Regions from separate parts of the Homo sapiens genome. Here region 1 is linked to region 2. The links come from fine-mapping of genetic effects on gene expression. Tissue or cell type: tibial artery. Region 2 holds a variant in brackets; the other region holds the start of a gene. All regions are shown on one strand. Distances are from middle to middle.

The links. PIP is the estimated chance that this variant, and not a neighbour inherited with it, causes the effect.
Region 1: it holds the start of HGS, and the variant in region 2 is the best candidate, but not a certain one, in a credible set for the expression of HGS in tibial artery (GTEx, PIP 0.76).

Annotation. Positions count from the first base shown.
Region 1 is chr17:81,682,756-81,685,255 of GRCh38, reverse strand. HGS (hepatocyte growth factor-regulated tyrosine kinase substrate) reads right to left here and starts at 1,245. Exons shown (of 22, transcript NM_004712.5): 1 at 1,153-1,245. The coding sequence starts at 1,189. It overlaps ARL16 (ARF like GTPase 16), which reads left to right and starts at 1,459. Exons shown (of 5, transcript NM_001040025.3): 1 at 1,459-1,563; 2 at 1,662-1,720; 3 at 2,130-2,243. The coding sequence starts at 1,503. RefSeq lists silencers at 1,015-1,114, 1,325-1,384, 1,595-1,674 and enhancers at 1,263-1,557, 1,775-1,994.
Region 2 is chr17:81,719,105-81,721,856 of GRCh38, reverse strand. SLC25A10 (solute carrier family 25 member 10) reads right to left here. Exons shown (of 11, transcript NM_012140.5): 10 at 1,970-2,026; 11 at 845-1,881. The coding sequence ends at 1,780. Among named protein-coding and RNA genes, the nearest start is that of SLC25A10, 8.2 kb to the right of the region's middle. The variant C/T (reference allele first, on the strand shown) is at 1,200.

The sequences.
Region 1 (2,500 bases), 36 kb after region 2:
CAACAAAGAACCCTATCACCCGTCCCTTGGAGTCCCCGTTCGCCCAGATGCTCCCGGTTTCAATGGGACCTTAGCTTGGGCAAGGGCTAGAGAGGCCTGCAGTGTAGACTCCAGGCCCCTTGCTCCAAGCCAAGTGCTTTGGAAATAAGGGCAGAACGGGGCTCCAAGGAGGACTCGCCAGCATACCTGTCATCATACCACATCACTGCTGTCTCCAACAACTGGCCCCTCTGGGGGGGCAGCTCCAGCTCTGCCCACATCGCCTTTCCCGGATACAGAAACGATCTAACAAGCCAAGCCACGTCCACTTTCTATACTGATTCAGTAGTTAACCTCTGGATTCATCCCTGAAGCACTGAACTACCTGTGTGGCTGAGATACTCAGTCTGCTTGCTGGTTCCCTTGGCAAGGAAGGTGTCTCACTTGAAGTCTCCTTGAAAACCCTACTTGACAAAAAGGCAAGCTTGGGCAGCCCATTCGACCACCCAAGCTCCTACCCCCAAACATTAGACGCATTTTCCACGTGCTGCTGGGCACGTGCACATCAACATTCGTTTCCCTCCCAAAACGCGTCAATTCCAGGAGGCTCAGATAGGATCAGCTTTCACCTCCAAAAACGTGAGAAAACGCCTTCCTAAACCATTAGGCACTTCCCGAAGCCAGTGTGGGAACAAAAGGTGGGTCTGGGACCCGCAGCCCCCAAGAGAGCTCGAAGGTCCCAGAGAGAACACTGCCGGCTCCACCCTTCGAGGCCCAGTGTTTTGGGTCAGAAGCCCAAGTGCGAGCCTAACATCCGACTGAGTCACCCACTTTCATGACTCAGGCCTTGTGGCCCACTCGGCCGGGTGCTCGTCGGTCAAGAGGAAATCGGCCGAATGCCCGGGCCCGCGGAGGAGCGAGGTCGCCGAGCGCCCCTGGCGCCCTGCGCGGACCCTCGCAGAGCCCCATTTGCCAACGCCCGACGGACGCCGACCCCACGGCCGCGCCGAGGGTCCAGGATCGGCGGCTCCGAACCCGGGAGGACAGCGGGCCGGGGAGAGGCGGGCAGGGCGGCCGGTCCGCGCCCCTCGGGCCCTCGGGGCCGCGCTGACTCAGCGCCGGGCGGAGGCTGCGGGCTGACCAAGGCCGAGCCGTCGGGTGGGGACGCGTTACCTAGGAGACGCTCGAAGGTGCCGCTGCCTCGCCCCATGGCGACCTCCAGCCCAAACCCGACGCCGCGGGCGCTCCCCTGCTACGAGCTGGCGCGCCCCCCGACTTCCGCTTCCGCCTTTTCCCTCCAGTGCGCGCACGCGCACGTCACCGCGCCGGCCCTAGAGCCGCGAGGAGGCGGGGTCTTCCGCTCTCCCGCTAACGCTGCGCGCTAATTGGACGCGCCCTTGGAACAATGAGCCCTAAGAACCAATGAGAAGTCCGAAGGTGAGAACTATCCAATGAGAGTGGCCGGTGGGCGGGCCTTGAGCCGCGGCGCCGAGCTACGGGTGCCGGGTGGAGCGAAGCACGGAATGTGTCTCCTGCTGGGGGCCACGGGCGTCGGGAAGACGCTGCTGGTGAAACGGCTGCAGGATATCCTTCCGCGCGGGGACGGGACCGGGGCGCGGGGGGCACCCGGAGTGGGGCGGGGACTCACCCTTTAGCTGCTCGGGTCCTTGACCGCTTCGCACAGGTGAGCTCCCGGGATGGGAAAGGCGACCTGGGGGAGCCGCCCCCGACACGGCCCACGGTAGGTGTCCGCCCCCGCGGGTGGAGTTGCGGGGGGTCAGTTCTGCGCTTGGCGAAGAGCTCCGGGCTCCTCTAAGTGCACGCCGAGGCGCAGCGGGTCAGGTCGTGACTTAAGGCCAGCCTTCGGGAGCGGGGGACGGCCCGAGCTGAGGATAATTGGCGCGGGATGAGGGGGCCTGCCGCCCTCCACGGGCACTTCCTCTCCCCTCGCAACGGCTTCCTGTGGCTGGTCGCCCCCACAGCGAGTCCAGCTACTGATGGGCGTCGGTCCCTGCTCGCCGTTCCTGCGTTAGGGAGAATGGGTCTGCGGGGTTCAGGCCACCGTGTAAGGTGTGGGCACGGTGCTCTTCAGGAGTTCACAACGGGACAGCGGTTGTATTGTTCTTTTTGCATCGTGGTTTTTCCTATAGGTGGGCACCAATCTTACTGACATCGTGGCACAGAGAAAGATCACCATCCGGGAGCTTGGGGGGTGCATGGGCCCCATCTGGTCCAGTTACTATGGAAACTGCCGTTCTCTCCTGGTGGGTTGTAATCCTATATGGGCTTCCTTTAGGGAAGTGTGTCTACATTTCTGTGACGTCCAGTCCCCAACCTTGCTGTGTGTAGAAAGGGGTTTGGGTTATTTAGTGACTATACTACTCATGGAAATAGGTCTTAGCTAGTGTTGCTTCCTGCTGGGCACCCTGTCTGGTTTCTGGTGCTTGCGCTCCCAGGCCCCCGGTAGGAGCTCACAGAGGGCTTGCTGAGGGCAGGGCTGCTGCTCCGCAGAGAACAGACT
Region 2 (2,752 bases):
AGCTGGGACTACAGGTGCATGCCATGACGCTCAGGTAATTTTTAAATTTTCTGTACAGATGGAGATCTCACCATATCGTCCAGGCTAGTCTCGAATTCCTGGGCTCAAGAGATCTTGCCTCAGCCTCCCACAGTGCTGGGATTACAAGTATGAGAGATCACACCCGGCCCACCATTACATTCTTTTTTTGAAATGGGGTCTCGCTCTGTCACCCAGGCTGGAGTGCAGTGGTGCGATCATAGCTCCCTGCAGCCTCGAACTTGCAGGCTTAAAGGATCCCACCGCAGCCTTCCAAGTAGCTGGGACTACAGGCTGTTTGCGCCACTGCACTCCAGCCTGAGTGACACAGTAAGACCCTGTCTTAAAAAAAAAAAAAAGGGCATCTTTGGGAGGCCAAAATGGGCAGATCCCCTGAGCTCAGAAGTTTGGGACCAGCCTGGGTAACATTGTGAGACCCCAACTCTACAAAAACATACAAAAATTAGCCAGGTATGATGGTGCACGCCCATAGCACCAGCTACTTGGAAGGCTGAGGTAGAAGACTGGTTTGAGCCCAGGAGGCCCAGGTTAGTAAGCCAAGATCGTGCCACTGCACTCCAGTCTGAATGACAGAGCCAGATCCTGTGTCTGAGACCCTCAACCCCAGCCTCACCGTCTTGTTCCCTTCCCCCCACACCGGTTTTGGTTCCTCCTACTTCCCCAATTCCTTCATCCAAATGCACAGCGAGGACCCTGGCTCCTCCCCAAAAGGCCTTGGCCCGGTCCTCCTTAGGGGGTGCAGGGGGTCCTGCTGGTCTGGACAGCAAGGCAGCCAGCGGGCAGGCAGCGCAGGCAGGAACAGATGTGGCAGCTCCCGGCATTTATTGATTGCAGCCCCCACAGAGCACACTGCCCTTCCCAGGTGGGGTGAAGCCCAGCGACCAGGGAGGCAGAGGATGCAGCATCCGCCCCGTCGGACTCCTTGTCGGGGAGAAGGCCCTAAGGAGGAACCGCGGCCCGCCTGGGCCATTCCCCCAGGGAGCCAAGCGGGGGGGCCCAGGTGCCCGAGGGACGCAGGCACAATCCCTGAAGACAGAGACCGCCTGCTGGTGAGTGGAGAGGCTTTGGCAAAACTAACTGTTAAAGCCACTGCAGGGCAGGCAGCGGTGCGCGGGACCTCGGTGGCCCTCGACCCTCACCCACAATGGCTCCAGAACCAC[C/T]CTGGGCCACTCCCTCCCAGGCACTCGCTTGTGGTCTGCGTTGCTTGTTCATCCCACCCAGCTGCGGGGTCTCGCGGGGAGTTGCAGCTGCCCGAGGACATGGAAGGTCTGGTTGCTCTCAGCAGACACGAAGTGCAGAGCTAGCACTTGGGTGAGCAACAGCCAGGCTGCACCCACACTCTGCCACCCAAGTCCTCGATGGAAAGTGCTGGAAGATGCTGCTTTGGGCATCGGGGGCAGGAGGCAGGGATAATACCCCTCCCCTGGCCCAGGAGAGGGGAGAAATCAGCCTCTGGTAGCCCCTGTTCCCCTGAGGAGCTGCCAGCGGGAGAGGGGCAAGGCCACGCAGTGCCCAGCCGGGAGAGCCTGGTAGCCAGAGCGGGGGTGGTGCAGCTACAGCTGAGAGGGGACGAGGCCAGGAGGAGCTCAGCCAGCAGGTGGGGGGACAGCAGGGGCCTGCTGCGGAGGACGGGTGGCCACGGCCAGGGAGGTCGTGGCCCCAGGAGCAGGTGCTGGGCTTGGGACTCTTTGGAAGAACCTAGCGTGTCTGGCCTGGCAGCCCAGCCATTCCCACGGCTGGTCAGGATGGCACTTTGATGCCAAAGTTTTTGCGTAGCTGTTCCAGAAACACAAAAGTGAGCACGGTGTGGGGGATGAGGCGGATGCCAGCTGGGACGAGGCCCTGGAGGGAGACAGGGAAAATGAGAGACACAGAGCCCGAAGGGGCCCGCTCCCCATTGCCCAAGCCGCCACTGCCGCCACCACTGCACCTTGTAAAAGGCCAGAGGCCCGAGCTTCGCTGTCTCCACGGCGCAGTGGAAAACGCCCTGCAGAAAACGCAGTGAAACAATCAAAAAGGCTGCTTCTCACCCAAAAGGCAACGAAAATCCCCTCCCAGGCACCAGCCAGGCACGGTGGCCTGGGCATTCTCAATGTGGGGTGTGGGTGTGGGTGTGGGTGTGAGCGGCGGCTGCTGGCTGGTAACAGGTGACCACAGGTCTGCAGGCACCAGCCAGGTCAACGGCCACCCTGCCTGCTCATGCGGTACAACCAGGGCCCGAGGGTGCAGCCCGGGGTCCAGTGGGCAGAGGGGGCTGTGAACAGAACCATGAGAATCAGGGATGCAGCACGGCAGCGTCAGGGAGAAGAAAAGGGACAGAGCTATGGGCTCTGCAAACGTGGAAGCCCCATGGAGTTGGCGGGGGCCCAAGACAGGAGACCCAGAGCACCTATGAGGCACAGACTGCCATGAACGGCACCACCTCTGTTAATCTGTGAAAGAAATGTTTTTGGCCGGGCACAGTGACTCACACCTGTAATCCCAGCACTTTGGGAGGCTGAGGCGGCAGATCACTTCAGGCCAGGAGTTCAAGACCAGCCTGGCGAACATGGCGAAACCTTGTCTCTACTAAAAATACAAAAATTAGCCAGGAGTGGTGGCACGTGCCTGTAATCCCAGCACTTTGGGAGGCCGAGGCAAGCGGATCACCTGAGGTCAGGAGTTCAAGACCAGCCTGGCCGACATGGTGAAACCCTGTCTCTACTAAAAATAT